2 separate regions of the Homo sapiens genome follow, and region 1 is linked to region 2. The links come from fine-mapping of genetic effects on plasma protein levels. A gene starts in region 2. The other region holds a variant in brackets. All regions are shown on one strand. Distances are between the middles of the regions.

Region 1 (8,000 bases), 14 kb after region 2:
TCTGTGCAGATGCAGCTCTGGGGGCCCTACATTCATTCCTCCCCAAAATCCTAGGAAGTACTGAATCGAACTGTAGAAAACAGCTGTTTTCAAGGTCAAAAATGATGAAACAACATGGTTCAACCTAAGATTACCATCATTATTTTCATTATACCAATAAGGAAACTGAGTACAAAGAGCTTAAGTAATTTGCCTCAAGGGCACACAACTAGAAAGTGGCAGTCAGGAGCCAATCCCAGTCAGTCTATCCCAAAGTCCATACAGAAGTCTCTGATGGGAGGAAATTGTGATTTCCAGTTCATAAATGAGGGGAAGTCACTCAGAGGTCATATAATTAAACCAATCCTGGTGGAACCCAGATCCACCCCTGTGTCTGTCCAGCTCTAAGCCCACTTTAGGCTAGCAGTGTCCAAGATAACTTTCTAGGATGATGAAATGTTCTATATCTGCACTGTCCAACACAGTCATCACTAACCACACCTGGCTATTGAGCACTTGAGGTGTGCCTAGTGCTGCTGAGGAACTGAATTTTTAATTTTAATTTTAATGAGTTTCAATTTAAATAGCCACATGTGGTTAGTGGCTACTGTATTGGACAGTGCAGCAGCTGGGTTATGAGGCCATGTTGTACACACACCCCTCCCACCCCTCCAGCGGCCCCCAGCCCCCTTCCTACAGGGTCCAGGCCATGATCCCCATCTCCCTCCACTGTAGGCTGAAGACCGCCATGAGCTCTGAGACTCCCACCAGCCGACAGCTCTCAGAATACCTCAAGCATGCCAAAGGCCGGACGCGCACAGCCATCCGCAATGGACAGGTGTGGGAGGAGTCTTTAAAGAGACTGAGGCAGAAGGCATCCTTGACCAATGTCACAGGTACAGAAAACCCACCAGCCCTCTGTGGCAGGAAGGGGTCATCTCCCCACAGGAGAAAGCAGAGGCCACCCAAAGCTGCACTTCCTGTTGAGAGCTATCTACTCAGAGGAACACTCCTGTCTCTCCCTTCTTAGACCCGTAGACGAGACTGGCAGAGCAAGGAAGGTCTTAGAGGACAGCTAGGGCAATGCTGTTTTTGCAGAGGAAGAAACTGAGACCTAGCAAGCTCACATGGCCGACTCCAAGTGAGGGGACATTGGTGCTCTTTGTATAACACCGTCTGTAAGGCCTCTGCCCAAAGGAAGTGCTAAAGTCAATAAACATGGGTTCCTTGTCCTAAGCCACAGTGTCACCACTTCCTCTAGTAGAAGAGACATTTAAGCCACATGTGTCAGGGGGATTTACTTGGGATAATGTCACAGGAGCTAAGATTTCCATCGTGTTCTGGGTAAGATGGAGCTATCAGTAAGTGAACTTAACTGATGGCTTGGTCATGGCCTCCTCCATCCCCTCCACTCTCACCCCCAACCAAATGCCACAGCCCACAGAGGGTCATGAGGAAGGGGTTTGGTCCTGACAGGAGGAAAAGGCTGCAGGTTCTCCCTGGGAAAACATCAAGTGAGGGGGGATACCTGGCCCAGGAGTTGGGCAAATTCCAAAGCTCCAAAAGAAGGAAACTGGGACAAGGTAAGAAGTAGGAAGCACTTTGACCTCTGAAATACAAAAGGTTCGGAGAGCTGAAATCCTGCCACCTTTCAGAGATGGCCCCCCGGAAGAAGCCCCCATGAGCCAGATTCCCTCACCTCCCTGCCCTTGCAGACGCCAGGGTGGATGAGGGTATGCGTTCAGAAGTGGGCATCTCTCTCCACTCTGTGCCCACACTGAACACTCTGATGCCTAAAGCCCCCCTACTCTGTCACTCCTCCCACAACCCTTGCCCCTCACTGAAAAATTACCTGTCCCTTCCCAACCTCTATCCTAGCTATGTCCCTGCTTGCTTGGTACTTCAGATGTGAACGAAGCTTTAGAAGAAAGCAGTCTTATCACACTAACTCATACTAACATATGCTTAACCTCCCGGGGTATTTCCATTCTAAAAGAAAGATCTGTCAATTCAAATGAATCTGGACCTGGTATACCAGGAATTACTAGCAATTCTGGGGACATTCCCAGTTACTCTGTGTGGCCTTGGGCAAGTCTCTTGAACATTGTGTTCTCATTTTCTTCCCTGTAAAATGGGAATAAAATGTATTACCTTAATGTGCTGTCAGATTAATTGAGAAACCACTTGAGAAACGCTTACTTAGAATGGAATGCATTCCAAAACATGCAGGTTCACCTCTGGTCTCCATTTCCTGCCTCCCACGGGTGCCTGTGAATGGAGAAAGAACTCAGTCCCTTTGGGGTCCCTTCTGTTTCAGATCCCAGCCTGGACTTGACTTCACTGTCTCTGGAGGTGGGCTGTGGTGCTCCTGCTCCCGTGGTGAGATGCGACCCGTGCAGCCCTTACCGCACCATTACGGGAGACTGCAATAACAGGTGGCGGGGCTTGGGGTGTGGGGGCCGACCATTCCAGCCACTCCGCCCCGCCCTGCCAAGGCCTTTGTCCCTTGGGCACTCTAGGCAGATCTGCCACTGCCTTGCCCACCTGGGCTGGCGTTCCCACCTTCCCCACCTTCTCAAGATCGCGCGTCTCCAGCCCTCTCCCTCCAGCCCACTGTGTGTCTCTGGAAGCGGCACCTTTCCCCGGGGCGGGGGAGCCCCGCGCCTTCAGGGGGTGGGCGCAGTTCAGAGACCCCAAATTTGAGAGGCCCCCTTCTCTGCGTCCCCTCCGCCTCGAGCAGAGGCTCCTTCCCCCATGGGGTCCTGGGCTTTGGAGCCCCGGAGCCGGCCTGCCGAAGCTCAGCGAGGATCGTGCTGGTTTCAGGAGGAAGCCTGCGCTGGGCGCCGCCAACAGGGCTCTGGCGCGCTGGCTGCCCGCGGAGTACGAGGACGGGCTCTCCCTGCCCTTCGGCTGGACGCCGGGGAAGACGCGCAACGGCTTCCCTCTCCCGCTGGTGAGGGCAGGCCGGGCCGGGGTGAAGGATGGGAGCCAGAGGGGACGGGATGCACTACCCAAACACGCAGTGAAAGGAGGAGGAGGGATCGGTGGGGGCAGCAGGGGTGCGCGATGGAGATCTGCACAGACCCCCACCTTCCGCTAGAGGGCAGCAGAGCTCGGAGCCCGGAGCCCGGCCACGTGGCGGTCACGTTCTGGCCGCCGCAGGCCAGATACCCTGGGGTCTCCCGGGCAGATGGCCTCCCTGCCCCATCCCGCTCGCACTTACCCCAGCCCCCGCCCCTGGAGTGCATCAGCTGTTGTTTGCCTGGAGGTCCTATTTGTTGGCCTTATCGAGCTGGCAGCCCCTACCCAGAGCCCCTCTCCTATTCCTGGACACCTGGCACCTCCGTAGCTCGCATTTCAGAGGCAGCCTGTCTTTGTTTTCCCTCTCTTAGTGGAAAGGGCACCGGCTTGGCAAATCATCAAGTCATACGGATCTGGGTTCAATCCCATCCCTGTCCCTTTGTAGCGGCAGGACCTTGGAGAACTGACTTCACCTGTCCAGGATTCAATCTCCCCCTCTACAGAATAGGCTAATGCCACCCACCTCACAAACTCCTTGTAGGGATTAAGTGCACTTGTAACATGGTAGGTAGTTAATAAGCTGTAGTTGCATCTGAATCCTCAAAGCACTTTTTCCTCTAATCTGCCCTCCCCTTCTCTCTCCATCTGTAGGCC[C/T]GGGAGGTATCTAACAAGATTGTTGGCTATCTGAATGAGGAGGGTGTTCTGGACCAAAACAGGTCCCTGCTCTTCATGCAGTGGGGTCAGATTGTGGATCATGACCTGGACTTTGCCCCTGACACCGAGCTGGGGAGTAGCGAGTACTCCAAAGCCCAGTGTGATGAGTACTGTATCCAGGGAGACAACTGCTTCCCCATCATGGTACGGCCCTGCAGCTAGGCATCTCTGACTAGCCCCTTGCCCACCCTGATGTAGCAGACATTCCCAGCTCATCAGCTAGGATCTCTGGATAGATCTGGGATACTGATTTGGTAGTTTCCCATGCCTCACGTGTCCATTCGTTCACTCATCCGTTTATTCAGTAAATAGACATTGACCACCCCATACCAGGCAGTGCACTAAGCGCTGAGGATTCCAAAGTGAACAGGACACCGCTCCTGCTCTCAAGAACAAAGGGCCAGTGTGGGAATTGGACAAGTAAACTACTGATAGCAGAATGGGAACACTGGAGAAGGTTGTCTACATTCCCGACCCAGCAGCATTGGTAAAACCTGCTTATTAGAAATGTAAAATCTCAGTTGGGCGAGGCGGCTCATGCCTATAATCCCAGCACTTGGGGAGGCTGAGGTGGACAGATCACCTGAGGTCAAGAGTTTGAGACCAGCCTGGCCAACATGGTGAAACCCCGTCTCTACTAAAAATACAAAAATTAGCCTGGCGAGGTGGCACATGCATGTGGTCCCAGCTACTCAGGAGGTTGAGGCAGGAGAACCGCTTGAACCTGGGAGGCGGAGGTTGCAGTGAGCCGAGATCACGCCACTGCACTCCAGCCTGGGCAACAGAGCAAGATTCCAACTCAAAAAAGAAAAAAGAAAAAGAAAAAAAAAATGCAAAATCTCAAGTCTCACCCAAGATGTTAGGAAATAGATTCTACATTTTTACCAAGATCAACAGAGATTCATTTTATACATGATAAAGTTTATACTGCTGTACATCATCGTGGAGGATGACTTCAACTCCACTCAGAAGGACTTGAAACCTGGATGAATCCGAGTGAGCAGCAGGGATTTGTAGGGATTTCCATCCGGAAGGGAGAGGAGCTTGCAGCAATGCATCTTTTCTTATTATTCATGGGTATTACAGTTGGAGAGTCATTTCTTCACTCAAAGAATAAATCGAGGCTATGTGCTGTGGTATAAAGAGCATAAACTGTGGAATGAAGCCAATGATCTGAATCCTACATCTTTCCCTTCCAGTGTATAAGTTCTTAGGCAACTTACTTAACTTTTCTGAGCCCCAGTTTTCTCATCTATAAAATGGAACTGAATTGTCCACCTTACAGGGTTTTTTTGAGGACTGAGATGAGTTAAAGTATGCATAATTCCTGGCACATGGTAAGTCCAAAATAAATACATGGCAGCTGTTGTTAGTAGTAATTATTAACAAACCTGTTCCCACCTCGTGTCCTGCTTTCCTGTCCAGGGAGCTCAATACTCCCTCCTCACCAGAAATTTGGAGCCCTCACTGTGAGGACTGAATGATTACCCTCAGTTCTTTCACACAACAGGATGTAATGAACTTCAGGATATTATGAGCCCAGGGTGTGTAATGTCAGCAAGAAGTGTCTGGGGTCAGTGTCTGGTACCAGGGTCCTAGGAGGGTGCCATCAGCATCTTTGCATCCAGACTTGCCCTGGGGAGAGGTTGCCAGGACCCAGCTGTTCCACCCCTGCCCAGTCACTTATGCCCACTCTCTCTGCAGTTCCCACCCAATGACCCCAAGGCGGGGACTCAAGGGAAATGCATGCCTTTCTTCCGAGCTGGGTTCGTCTGCCCCACTCCACCCTACAAGTCCCTGGCCCGAGAGCAGATCAACGCTCTGACCTCCTTCCTGGATGCCAGCTTTGTGTACAGCTCCGAGCCAAGCCTGGCCAGCCGCCTCCGCAACCTCAGCAGCCCCCTGGGCCTCATGGCTGTCAACCAGGAGGTCTCAGACCATGGACTACCCTACCTGCCCTATGACAGCAAGAAGCCAAGCCCCTGTGAGTTCATCAACACCACTGCCCGTGTGCCCTGCTTCCTGGCAGGTGAGTCTAGCCTGGGAACAGAAGGGCCCAAGGACAAGGGGATTATCCAGGGAAGCTTTACCACTGCCCCCTTCTTGTCATCTTTCTGGAAAAATGCACACTGAGCCATTGCTGTCCCTAGCAGTGGTCCAGGACTAGCAGAAGGGCCCAGATGAATAAAGAATTCCAGAACATATGTTCACTGTAAAACAAAATCAGGAAGTCCAGAAAAGTAACAAAGAAAATAAAAAGAAAGTGCCAGGCTTGGTGGCTCACGCCTGTAATCCCAGCACTTTGGGAGGCCGAGGCAGGCAGATCATGAGGTCACGAGATCGAGACCATCCTGGCTAACATGGTGAAACCCCGTCTCTTCTAAAAACACAAAAAATTAGCCGGGCGTGGTGGCACACCCCTGTAGTCCCAGCTACTCTGGAGGCTGAGGTAGAAGAATCACCTGAACCCAGGAGGCGGAGGTTGCAGTGAGCCGAGATCACGCCACTGCACTCCAGCCTGGGCAACAAAGCAAGACTCCATCTCAAAAAAAAAAAAAAAAAAAAAAAAAAGAAAGAAAGAAAGAAAAGAAAAGAAAAAGAAAATTCACACAATCCCACTACCCACCAATAATCATCGTTAACATTTTCATGCTTATTTTCCAGTATTTTTTCTATCACAGATACAGTTCTACATTGTTTTACATAATCGGGTCTTACTATAAATAATGCTCCAAAACCTGATGTCTTCACTTAATTTACTCCATGCCATTAACTGTTCTTCTATGACGTGATTTTTAATGGCTGCCTGGTATTTCATGACACATATTACCATCATTTATTTTCTCAATCCTACTTGGGGGAATTTAGTTATTTCAAGTTTTCCTGTGTTTTGTTGCTGTTGTTTAGGTAATGAACATCTTCATTGATAAATCTTTGTTCTCATTTTTAATACATTTATTAAGCTAATTTCCCAGAAGAGGAAGTTCTAGATGAAGAGGAATGTATATTTTTAAAGCTTTTTATAACCTGGGGACAAAATCCCCATTCCATTCAGCCTGTGCACGACCAAAGCCCTGCTAATTCTGTTCATTCCAGGTGCCCTCCTGGTCCTCTCTGTCTCCGGCTTCTAGAGGCCATCCCACCCTCAAACATCCTCTCTCTTTGGACAAACCCCCTGGCCACCCTGACATTGCAGAAGGCCAGCTCTTAGGCCAAGATACCTTTATAGATCTTTTGGATTTTGTGTTCACATATATCCCACAGCAATCCAGACACAAAACCGAGTTCTTTCTTGTTTTTCATAAAAATATGCACTCACACCAAGAATTTACAATTTTAAATAGATTTCCTGGCCTGGTGCAGTGGCTCATGCCTGTAATCCCAACACTTTGGGAGGCTTAGGTGGGAGGATTGCTTGAGGCCACAAGTTCGAGAACAGCCTGGGCAACATAGCAAGACCCCTGTCTCTACAAAAAATTTAAAAACTAGCAACACATGGTGGCACATGCCTGTAGTCCCAGCTACTCTGGAGGCTGAAACAGGAGGATCACTTGAGCCCACGAGGTTGAGGCTTCAGTTAGCCAAGATAATGCCATTGCACTCCAGCCTGGGCAACAGAGCAAGACTGTCCAGATAGATAGATAGATGATGATAGATATATAGATATATAGATATATAGATAGATAGATAGATAGATAGATAGATAGATAGATAGACTCTCCTAAAGATTAGAGGGCACAGGGAGAAGTCCTTTATCCCCTTATGAGACACCTGGTCTTTGGCCATTTAACTGTTCCCCCATCGTTACTCCTCTCTCCCTCCCACTACAGACCCCCATCTCCAGATTATTCTCCCTTTATTACCCAGAGGAACTCAGCCTTACCCAAGCTCCTCACCTCAAACCCGCATTCCTAAAACCTTCAAATTTGCTCTGTGAAGTAAAAAGCTCCTCATTCATTCGAAGCTCCCCTTCCTAGAAGGCGGTTGGGTTATAATTAGCAAAATGTTACTGTGTAGTTTGTCACCACTAGCCTTTGTCACAGTGCTGTGATAGGCTTTATTCTCATTTTCATAGGTAAGGAGACCGAGGCTCAGAAGTGTTAAGTAACTTGTCCAAGGTCACACAGCTAAAAAGTGTGTATATAGAACTGAGAGTCAAACCTATGATTCAGTACCCCCTCCCCATCCCTATTCACCTGACGGGAAGTAGGGCTTGTTGACGGGGCGGGGGGGGCGGGGCGCGGTCCTGTGGGGCACCATCATTTCTTTGTGCAGGTTACTGGGTC
Region 2 (11,932 bases):
GAAAATTCAGGATATTGGATTGTGTTACCAACTTCTTACAGCCCTCAGTAAGGTTCTACAAGAGACAGGCCCTTAGTTTCACACTGGCCTATGTGAAAACAAGAAAATACATCTCTGTTAAGAGAGGTTCTCTCTTGGCGGGGCACGGTGGCTCATGCCAGCACTTCGGGAGGCCGAGGCAGGTGGATCACAAGGTCAGGAGTTCAAGACCAGCCTGTCCAAGATGGTGAAACCCCGTCTCTACTAAAAATACAAATATTAGCTGGACGCCGTGGCAGTGCCTGTAATCCCAGCTACTCGGGAGGCTGAGGCAGGGGAATTGCTTGAACCCGGGGGCGGAGGTTGCAGTGAGCCAAGGTTGAGCCACTGCACTCCAGCCTGGGTGACAGAGTGAGACTCCATCAAAAAAAAAAAAAAAAAAAAAAAAAAGAGGTTCTCTCTGCCTATGAACTGAAATTTAAAAATGGCTGAAATGTGATCACGTGACTATGTCATCTTGGTCAACTTTTTAGAGTCTGCCCATATTTGTAGAATGAATGCATGAATGAGTGAGTGAGCTTGCTATAAGAAAGAGCTAGATAATTAGAGCCTCCCAGCAATGAAGCAGGTTGCCATGTAAATACTGAGCTCCCCAACCCCGGAAGTGTTCAAGCAGTGACTTGATGACCATCTGTCAGCTTTAATGTAAATAAATATGACCTGGGGATTTTGTGAAAATGCAGATTCTGATTTGGTACATCTGGGTGGGGCCTGAGATTCTGTATTTCTGAGTAGCTCCCAGAAGATTCCAATGCTATAAGACTTTGGATCATACCTTGAGGAGCAAGGATGTAGTGGGGAATCCTACAGAGGGTAGAAAGTTCAGCTAGATTAGTAGTTTCCAAATCTACCCGTATGTCAGACTCACCCAGGAGATTTATTAGAAATAGAGGTTCTCCAACTCCAATGCCAGAGCTGGAATTCTGTAGACCAGGAGCAGAGTCTGGATGCCTGTATTTTTCCCAAGCTTTCCACTGATTCAGATGCAACCTTTGGGAATCACTGAACCAGAGGCTTCTGAAATGTTGTTCAAACTCTAAGCTTACTTTTTAAAAGAATCAGACAAATATAAATCATGATGAGGCAAAGCCAGGCTGACTAAAATCCCCTTGCTATACTTACTTGGCAAATATCACCAGGGTCAAAACACTGCCTTGTTATTTATGAGTCCTAGATCTATGCTTAAATCCATTTCTAGAGAATGTCATATTTCCTATATTTTTGCAGATTGGAATTACATTATGCTCTTAAAGTAGCCCAATTAATGATTTCTTGAACCCCAGCAACTTGTAGTGAAACAACATAATTATGTTAAAAGAGGGAACTTCCACATTAGGTTTCTTGGAGAATGTTTCAAAAGATAAAAATAGCAAGGAAATCTAGGGTTGTGTGACACATCGAAAACATCCCACAAACGGGAATCTTCCCAATTGAGTCTGTTAGGTCATGGTCTCTTGCTCTCATTGCAGCTGTGAGCAGGGAATTGCAGATCCCTAATCTGAGGCTGTAAAGTTTTATTGCTACAGATTTGATAAGTTCTAGGAGGGCAGAATCTCAGGCAGATTTGATCAATTTCTGTTTTTCTTACCCATTCATCATTTTCTCTTTTGACATGGCCACAAATGGGAGGGTTCATGAAGGTGGGCCAGCACCACGTTTTAGAACTTGGGGCTGGAGGGAGAGGCTGGACTTTTACCCCACTGCAGGGGTTAGAAGGGCCAGTTGAATTTGTAGGATGTGAAATCCAGTAAGGACCATGATTAAATTGCCAGCAGTGGCAGTGCCTCGGGCACTGGATCGAAATTCAGGGCAAAATTTCAGAGTTTAGACATGGAAAGCTAACAGTGGGGCCATCACCTCATGGGGGGCCAGGTACTGAAGTCAAAATGGGCCTCCTGAAATCTGTAGCAAGAAGGGAAAAGAGAAAACATGAGTTACTATAAGCAATGCAGGCCGGTTTTCAGCTGTCAGGCTAGGAAATTCTGCTAGGCTTTATTTCAGCAGACGGACATCATCAGCTATGCAGTATCCAGGTCCACAGGGACTTCAGAGAGGTGGGAGCAACTAGCCTAGGTTGCCGAGTTCAAGAGCAGAAACCCTGCCTGGGCCAGCTGTTGTCCTCAGGCTGAAGATGGACTCTTTCACATCCATGTGACCAAAAGAGGGCAAAACTAGAGTTGGCTCCTTGGGGACAGGGTGGTGCCATGGCCCCCATCATCTCCTTTTTTCTTCCCATCAGATAGCAAGCAGCTCATTGGAGAGCCACACAGTCACCAGGACAGAGAGAATGCCCAGCAGCAGAAGCCAAAAAAAGAAACTTTCCCTTTCTGTCTCCTCTGTCTGTGGCGTGCAACCCAGCTATGAGGACGTGGGGTTGAAGCCATTTCCTTTTTCAGTTTCAGCTTCTGACCCTCCTCAGGATTAGAAGTGGCGATTCAGAGGCTGGGAGGGTGAAAGCATGACTTCTCAAGAACCAGCTCGTGCTGAAGTCACTGCTCACCTTCCTGTCTCAGGGATGCTCCTGATGCTAATGACGTCGTGTGAATCATGCTCTACGTGTCTGCATGCCTGAGCCGAGCTTATCCTCATGGCACCCTGTGAGGCAGGCTGCTGCTCCTACTCCCACTCACCAGAAGAGGAAGCCGAGGCTCAGAGACTGAGTAACTCTTGAGGTTACACAGCCACCGAGCAGGGTCATTAGGGCCCTATGAGATTTCCTTCCGACTCCGCTCTGAACTCACTCTCGTAGGCCCAAGCTGGGCGCCTCCCCCAGGGAACACCGTAGTGGCCCGGAAAACAGAGAGCACAGGTTACATTTGGCTCACATTCTTGGTGTGTCCACTGTAGGTTGCTGTGAAGTAAATTTTAAATTTTTATATAAAAACAAACAGATAATTTCTTGAGTGGGACATAAAAGCATGAATTTGAAAGTTAAAATGTAAGATATTGACCTTTTACTTAATAATAATGTAACAATATTGCTTTATTAACTGTGACAAATGTACCATTGTAAAATAAGATAATCATAATGAAAACTGGGTGTGGAGTGTGCAGGAACTCTGTATTATCTTTGTAATAATATGGTAAATCTAAAATTGTTCTAAAATAAAAATTTTTCTCTTTAAAAAAGTAAGATATCAAATAAATTTTAGAATCTCAGTTTCCTTCAGGGGTACCTGGTCATGATTATCTTTTGTTAGAGGCATATCAGAGGCCATGTTGCTCGCTGAGTAGAAGGACATTCTACAGTGTACGCTTACAGCCTCTTGAAAAGCCTGTATTCATTAAGAGAAGAAAAAGAGGGTGGGACAGTGAAGATTCTTTCACTTCCTCTCCCCAGCCTCTGTCCCCTTCTTAGCACTGTGCGAAGAGTGAGAGGTAATAACCACTTCACCCTCCCCAGGTTTCCACCAGAGTGGAAGGGGTTCCATCACAGACAGACTATTTGAGCATTTCACCCCATTCCAGCCTCCACCACAATCCTACAAATTCAACTGGCCCTTCTAACCCCTGCAGTGGGGTAAAAGTCCAGCCTCTTCCAGAGACAGGAGAATCACTTGAACTCAGGAGGCAGAGGCTGCAGTGAACCAAGATAATTCCACTGCACTCCAGCCTGGGCGACAGAGCGAAACTCCGTCTCAAAAAAAAAATAAATAAATAAAAAATAATAAATAAATAAATAAATAAATAAATAAAGTGGGGGGTAATTCAGGGCAGGGCAGAACCAGAATGTGGGGAAGTCAAGGAAGCCACAGAGGCAAGAGATTTATGAAGGACAAATGGACAGGATTCAGTGACCAAGAAGATGGGAGGAAGGGGAGGAAGAGAAAAGAGGGAAAGAAAAAAGAAAAATGCCCAGGGTGTCTCCCTGGTTTCCAACTTGAGTGACAGAGAATGATCACATTCCCAGCAGAATTTTTCTTCTTTCTCAACAAGATTCTTCCTGTTCTTTTGTTTCTGGTTGTCCCTCAGAACTAAGGAGAAACAGCCTTTGGGATAGTTGTCCCCCTACCCCATCCCAGCTGGTCCTAAGAGTAAGAACATAGGATTCTCATCCCCCTTTTATATAAAGAGAACCTGAGGGTATGTAATGTGTACAAGACTGTACAATGAGGCAGAAGCTCACTGGCACTGGGACCTACAAGATCTACTGATTCACAATTGAATTCTAAACATCACAGCCCAAGGGAACCAACACAATTACTTAGTGGACCCATTTCTCTTTCCAGAGAAGGAAACTGAGACCTCTGAATAAAGAGTAATTTTCCCAATGTCACATGCTGCTGACTAGCAAGCTAGGACTAGAGCCTGGCTTGCTGAGTTTTAATAATCCAGTGCTCCTTGCATTTTCGCTAGTTGCTTTGTCACATCTGTATGCACGTGTGTGTGCAAACACATACACACACACATACACATGCTTGCTTGCTTGAGAAACAGGGCATTTTATTCGCATGATATTTTCTTTATGGACTTATCACAAAGCATATCCTCAGACTGCTCACAGAATAACAATAGCAATTCAAGATTGTTTTTTGTTTAAAATCCTGTGTTTCTTTATTTGTGGCTTAAGTGGGAATTGGTTTATTGCCCCATCTCTACCCTGAGCAACTCAGGATTTATTCAGACTGTCTTGCTCCATTGAGGTCTATCCCCTTCCCCAGCCCTATGCCTACATTACCCTGCCAAGGCAGGGAACAGATCTGACAGCTTTTTTGCTTAAGCAAACTTATTAAAATTCATAATTTGTCAACTAATTAGGAAGAGAGAGGATTAGGAGTAAGAAAAAACCAGAAGCACATACTATTAGGTGCTCAGTGAATATTTAAGAGGAACAGGGAAAGAGGGAGGAAAGGAAAGACAACACTGAGGGGAAATGGTTGAATGGCATTAACTGAAAAAAAAAAAAAAAAAGATTTGCCATTAATGAAGAGAAGGAAGAGACAGTATTCTGCCCACCCACCAGGTCGGTTCCCAGGGAAGCCCTTCAGTCTCAGCATGCTGTGGCTAAGTGGAAAAATTCATTGATCATAGGTTTGCCAGTTGGAACCCTTGTGTTATGCCAATCTCAGAAGCTACCAAGCATCAGATCAATTCTCCCACTAAAAAATACTAGGAGGCCGGGCTCAGTGGCTCATGCCTGTAATCCTAGCACTTTGGGAAGCCAAGGCAGGAGGATCACTTGAGCCCAGGAGTTCGAGACTAGTCTGGGTAACATAGGGAAACCCTGTCTCTACAAAAAATTAAAAACTAGTAGGGAATGGTGGTGCATACCTGTAGTCCCAGCTACTTGGGAGGCTGAGGTGGGAGGATGGCGTGAGCCCTTGCACTGACTGGTGGTTGCACCACTGCACTCTAGCCTGGGAGGCAGAGTGAGACCTTGTCTCAGAAAAAAAAAAAAGTTGCTAGGAGAAGATAACAGAGCCTCCTCCTGTCTGCTAGAGAGACATACAACCCATCCCAAATATTTCTTTTTCTCATCTATAAATCCCTCCTCTCTCTCCAAAGGGGGCTGCCTGGCAATGTCCCCATCCCTTCCAACAGCTCATGCCGCCCTGGGACACCATTCAGAGAAGCTCTGCCATCTGCACACCCCTCCAGAGGCCAGGGACAGCTTAAGCCAGAGTGCCTGGGTTCCTCCCTTCTCTGGGGTAGAACTAGTGGATGAATCCCAAAAGGGGTAAACATGGGCATATAGAGCCACCCTTGGGACAAGAAGTCTGTTTGTTTGGTGTTCTAGGAAACCAACAAAAGGAAATGCATTTTAGCCAGGAAAGAAAAGAAAAAAAACAACCCTGCCCAGCTATGAATGACAGCCAAGCCAGCAGACAAAGGTGAAAACAGACAGCTAAGGAAGGGACTAGCTATGCGCCCATGGGAGAGAGCACCTGACATGGGCCCAGTGTGAGAGCTACAATCACCTTACACAAATAGAATGGTCACTGTGTTACCAACCATGAGTATCCTTTGGATCAACCAAAGGTTGTGTATGCAGCATGCAGCATTCTAATTCTAGAAGGCGACAGAGGTGAGCCAGCTATGTCCAAAATCAGTCTCATTTATAAACTGTGTGTTCCTGGGAAGTATGTGTGCATGTTTGTGTGTGTGTGTGGGTGTGTGTACTGTCATGTGCCAGCGATAGACCTTATCTTCATTGGGTACTCCCTGCTGCTGCTGCTTTTGCTAAAATATCTTGGACTCTGCACTGACATATGAGAAGCTATTGGCCTTTTTAGCTTTCTCCTGAACTTTCTGCCTTCCACTCTCCATTTCTCAGGCCAATTTGCCATTCCCACATGGGAAGACATCTACCTGTGCTACAGATTTGACTAGACTGAGATAAACCCATGAAAACATGTCATCACATGTCAGCAAAGCTCTCAAATAAAAATTAGCTATAGAACAATAGGCATGTCACTGTCAGATTGACTGCCTCCAGGTGTGCTTCACGGCCAATATCAAGGAAGGTCCTTACTGGGCTGGAGCTGACACTGCCCCATCCTATTTGACCCATTACAGAAAGACCAAAGCTAGGACATATCATATCATGTCATAACATGATAAAACCCGGGAATAATCAGACCTGTATTTTGCTGTTACCCTGACCAATAAGTCACTATATTTTGTACATAGGAAGCAATGTTATCCCATAGGGTCTTCTAAAAGGAAGTTCCATCTTCAGATTATTCAGAACCAACTAGGTCAAGATCTGCCTAACAACACAGCTTCCTGAACATATTAAGCATAAAACTCAGAGGCAAGAACCTTGAGAAACATGTGCCAAAGTTCAGGGAATGGTCAGACACAGAAAAACAATGCTTGGCTAAGGAGCTGAAGTGTGTTTCAAAGAAAACAAGAAGAGCCTGATGTCTCATTCACCTCTCCTGGACAGCTGCCTTCTTCCGAGATGCCCAGCTTATTTGCCTGGATTCATCACGAGAGAAGTAGTTTTTAGATATATTCCACCATCTAGAGAAAGGAAATATCACTTTTTTGAAGGCGAACCAAGAAGTCTGTTTTGGGGTTGATAAATTTCTGACAGTTGCTCCCAGAGTATTTTCAACTCAAAGTATAATTTCATAAAGAGGCTTATTATGTTTTAAATTGTCTGTCTGTAAAATATACTTTCATGAAATTTTGTTTTCTCGGAATCTTCCTTTTTCCTTCTTGTATGAATCTAATGAACTTGAATTTCCAAAGTCATTGAGGTAGGAAAGGTATGTAACATTATGCTTGAGCTTTAGGTCAATAATTTATACGATAGTGGTGGTTTTGTTTTGTTTCGTTTTGTTGAGACAGAGTCTCGTCCTGTCACCCAGGCTGGAGTGCAATGGCATGATCTTGGCTCACTGCAACCCCTGCCTCCCAGGTTCAAGTGATTCTCCCACCTCAGCCTCCCAGGTAGCTGGGATTACAGGTATGCACCTCCATGCCTGGTTAATTTTTGTGTTTTTAGTAGAGACAGGGTTTCACCATGTTGGCTGGGCTGGTCTCCAACTCCTGACCTCAAGTGATCCACCCACCTTGGCCTCCCAGATTCTGGAGTTTTTTAAATGGGTCACCCTATAGAAGGCATGAAGTCATAGAATCATAATAATCACCAAAACCAACCATTGATTTCAATACTAGAAAATTTGAGACACCAGAAGGTGAAGTGACTTGCCTAGAGCCATACAATGGCAGAGGCAGGGACTGCAACCCACTATGAAAGCTTAGGGCTCTTCTCACCCTTTGGTGGCCAAAAGTATTTTGAAATTTTGACCAAAAAAATTAATGTTTATTGATCACTTTAAATCCAAAAGATGAATCCACTGGATTCCACAGTAAATTGGGTGGAATGTAAGGGAGGGATCAAAGGGCAGTGAATATATGAATGGGGAGGAGAACCATTTAGCTAGGTGCAAAAGTAATTGCGGTTTTTGCAATACTTTTGCACCAACCTAATAATTGTTCATAATTCTAAGAGCTATTCGGATCCCATTAGGAGCTTAAAAGGGACAAATGTGCTCAGGGCATGCAGTTTTTGCCTTCCGGAACTAGATCAGGATCATGCATTTAAGCTAGAAAATGGAAAGAGGAGTTGCTTCACCCACAGTCAGTGCTATTGCATCAACCAATCCCTGCCATTCTGCAGTTTCCTGGTGTATCTGCCCGGAGTCACACAGTCTTTCCTGCTAAGCCTCAGCGTCTCCTCCAAGCCACATCAAAATCTTTCCTTCTGGGCCTTTCCCAGAAGTGAATTCTTGCTGGAAGGTATAAAAGACCAGCTCCTCCAAGCAGAGCAACTCCCTGGCTGCCGTGAAAAGACAAGGCACTGGGCAGGTAAGACTCGTCAACTTTCATCTTTCCTGGTTTCTGCAAAGTTGATGATGAAATTTCCTAACGTCTTCTCAGAAAGCTTAACACTGGATTTAGACTTGTCTCTATCAGGCACTTTCTGGTGCCAGCTTTAGCCACCCCATGGCACACTCCTCTTGTTTGGTATAAGAGAGAATGTAATTAAGCCTCCCCCCACCACTGTGGGGGAAAAAGGCTTTTCTGTGTCTGAAAACTATGTCAGAGAATCATAAACTCTTAGGGCTGGAAGGTACCATAGACCTCTCTTATCCACCTTGTTTAGGAACTGAGACTTAAGCAATTTAATGTGTCCAGAGTCACACAGGAATTTGGGGGAAAACAGTGACAGAATGGTGCTCCCTGTGCTGTTCTTGAGACAGTGTGATGAAATCTGGCCTCTCCACTATAGTGGAGATTTTGCAGTGTTTTAAGGGGTTCCCTAAGCCGGAGCTGTCAGGTCTTCATCTCATTTCCAGCATCTCATGCCTGCCATCTGCAGCAGATCCGACCATCTAGTTTGCCCTCAATGTCTAGTCCTAGCTGTCTTAAGTGCCCTGTGGACACCTGGCTCTCAAGCAGGTGTGTGACCTGTATGCAGCGGTAGTAGGCAGGCTTCATTTTGGGGGAATGGGGTGGTTAAATTATATTTGTTTTTTATGCAATTGTGTGCCTCAAATCTTTCAGTTGAAGTAGATTATTTCCGCTCTAGAGGGCTTGATAAGAGCTATCTCTTCATTCTCATCCTGATCTTGGAGTCACTCAAAAGATCAAGAGAGTGTTCCTGCAGGTGATGGGGCAAGAATTATGGCTTTCCTATTGGCTCACTCCACCACCCTCCACAGGGCTCTTTACAATCATGGAAGAGAATCTCACTGACTTCATCCCTTCTCAGGCCTTCCCCCTATCTCCTTGGTGACTGCTCAGCGACATTGAGAACCAAAGTCTGGAAGGCCTTGGTACTCAGAGTGTGGTCTGCAGACCAGCAACATCATCATCACCTGGAGCTTACTGGAAATGCAGACTTTCAGGCCCCTTCTATGACCTTCTGAGTCAGAATCTGCATTTACCAAAATCCCTAGGTGATAGTAGGCACATTACAGTGTGAGAGGCTTGCCGAGGGACTATCTCTGCCCTCTCCCTCTGCAACCTCCAGATGCTGAATTTCTCTGCTCTAGGAGTTTTATTCATTCAGCATGCACCCAACACCTATTATGTATTGACATGCTTAGGTCCTGGGAAAACAAATAAATAAGATGGAGCCCTTGAGGAGTTCATGGTCTGATAGGGGAAACAGATGTGAAGACAGTAATATGAGATATGGATGAAATACTGTGGGAGGACAGAAAAAGGAACGATCTAACTTTTCCTGGAGAAAACTGGTAAACTTCACAGAGGAGGTGAAATTTGGTCTGGGTTTTGAAGAATGAATAGGAGTTTATTAGCCAGAGAGGGTATTGTATAGGGAAGAGCATGAGTAGAGGCATGGGATTGTGGACCAGCCTGGCATTTGAGGGGCAAAGGCTGTGGCTCTGTCTCCAGATAGTGCTTCATGTCCCAGGGAAGGCTCCAGGCTTTGCTGCAAATCAAAGGGCTTGGGAAATGGTTTCTGCACTCAGCATGTTGATAAGAATATGGATAAATATCTACACATCACAGGAGCCTCTTGTTGGCCTCTTACACTCTAAAGCCCCAGGCCCTCTTGCCCTGTGTGGTTCTGGCTGAAGACAGTGTCCCTCTAGAATCTTTCTGCACACCCCCTTTTCAGTGACATGACCTTGTATTCACCTGGCTCTGATTTTTGTTCATACCCGTCCCTCACACCCACCAGGAACATTGCCCAAGACATGGGAAAATAATTTCTCTCTGGCCTTGAAGTCCCCCTCCTCCACTTTCCAGTGAGGAGAGCATGAAGGGGGTCCTAAAGAAGAGGAGAGGAGAATTGAATATTTAAGTATTGTTTCCTGTTCAAATTTCTCAACTTTCATGTCTTCTTCTATGATTTTGTCTTCCTCAGGCTGTCTCAGATGATGTCTTTTTAAAAAATGGACTAATTTTTTACTTTGTGTTTGTCATTTATTAGGAAACGCATTAGTCATTCAAAGAACAATATAATGAATGTTTGTGCCCACAGCCCTCTTTAAAAAAATCAGTGATATGGTGGTTGCCAGGAGCTAGGGGGAAGGGGAAATAGGGAGTTGGTGTTCAATGGGTATAGGGTTTCAGTTTTTACAGGATGAAAATGTTCTAGAGATCCATTGTGCAACATGTGAATATACCTAACATTACAGTACTGTAGAGTTTAAATGACTAGGATGCTAAATTTTATGCTATGTGGATTTTTGTTGTTGTTGTTCTTTTCTTTTCTTTTTTCTTTTTTTTTTTTTTTTTTTTTTTGAGCCAGGCTGGAGTGCAGTGGCGCAATCTTGGCTCACTGCAGCCTCCACCTCCCAGGTTCAAGGGATTCTCCTGCCTCAGTCTCCCGAGTAGCTGGAATTGCCGGTGTCTGCCACCACGCCTGGCTAATTCTTGTATTTCTAGTAGAGACAGGGTTTTACCACATTGACCAGGCTGGTCTCCAACCCCTGACCTCAAGTGATCCGCCTGCCTCAGCCTCCCAAAATTCTGGGATTACAGGCATGAGCCACCACACCTGGCCATGTTTTTTACCATAGTTTGTTTTTTAAAGTCAATGATACCTTTTCCTCCAAAACCATCATCTCTGTTTGTCTGAAGGGCAGATTTCTGCTAACTCAATGAACCCTGCAATGGGTCCCCTGAAGTTGCAAAATATGGTGACAGAGGGATAGGAGGTCACAGAATCTCTTCCTCCTTGGGGCCATACAACTATAAGGACAAGAGCCCACTGAGAGGTCAAGCTGTTTGAGAACTCATCTTGGGGTGGGGGGAAGTAACAGAGAGAATCTTGGCCAGAGAGGTATTTATTCATGCCTTGCCCCTTCTCTAGAGTTAGCTGGCAAAAAGTACAACAAGATACAAATTATTAGGGGGACCACGAAAGGGCAGAGGGAAAAATTGGAGGCAGGCAGGGGTGAAGGAGGCTGAAATGACCTGATCCATATACAGAGGTCTCCTGGTCTGGCCTATTCCAAAGGGAGATGATTTGGAGAGGGTCTGCAAGACATACGGGGAAGTCTGTCAGGCAAAGCTCCAGAACTATGATTTCTCTCTGGGAGCTGAGCCCTGGGGAGACATGGCTGGGGGGCAACCTGAGGCTGCTCTCCTTAGTGTGCTTCTGGATTCCACCAGTGAACGCCGTGCTGCAGGGAGAGCACAGGCGCCCTTGTGAAAGCTGAGGAGCCTCTCAGGACCATGGTCTAAACACACAATCATTCCATCTGCACGCTGTGGCTGCCACCCCGGGCTGGAGCCAGAATCTCCTCAGAAGATGTATGGGGTCTGCTCCACTAAGCCCAGTGAAGACCCTCATCAGAAAACAAAGCTTCACAAATTTCAGTCTAAAGATTTGCATTCAGAGTTAAAGCTCATGGCAAAGAGGTTAATCCATGAGCTGGAATCTTTCCAGGCAGCCTGGGGCACA

Which allele goes with the higher level. Positions count from the first base shown, and alleles are read on the strand shown. Strength reflects both the effect of a copy and how common the allele is.
For the plasma level of the protein whose gene starts at base 8,203 in region 2, C is the high allele of the variant in region 1 and T is the other (weak association).

The links. PIP is the posterior inclusion probability: the model's chance that the variant is causal. The UK Biobank Pharma Proteomics Project read protein levels with antibody pairs (Olink). The fine-mapping took linkage between variants from a reference panel, not from the people measured, so its PIPs are less certain.
Region 1: its variant is fine-mapped to the plasma level of the LPO protein (UK Biobank, PIP above 0.99). The variant lies in the coding sequence of LPO. If it changes the protein, the assay may bind it differently, which can mimic a change of level.

The regions. Positions count from the first base shown.
Region 1 is chr17:58,246,764-58,254,763 of GRCh38, forward strand. LPO (lactoperoxidase) reads left to right here. Exons shown (of 13, transcript NM_006151.3): 4 at 715-875; 5 at 2,297-2,414; 6 at 2,803-2,932; 7 at 3,652-3,858; 8 at 5,419-5,743. LOC124904038 (a long non-coding RNA gene) reads right to left here and starts at 2,321. Exons shown (of 3, transcript XR_007065862.1): 1 at 2,179-2,321. RefSeq lists enhancers at 2,021-2,586, 2,717-2,786. The variant C/T (reference allele first, on the strand shown) is at 3,655.
Region 2 is chr17:58,230,382-58,242,313 of GRCh38, forward strand. LPO (lactoperoxidase) reads left to right here and starts at 8,203. Exons shown (of 13, transcript NM_006151.3): 1 at 8,203-8,358. It overlaps LOC124904038 (a long non-coding RNA gene), which reads right to left. Exons shown (of 3, transcript XR_007065862.1): 3 at 11,297-11,932. It overlaps LOC105371841 (a long non-coding RNA gene), which reads left to right. Exons shown (of 2, transcript XR_934884.4): 2 at 2,279-3,198.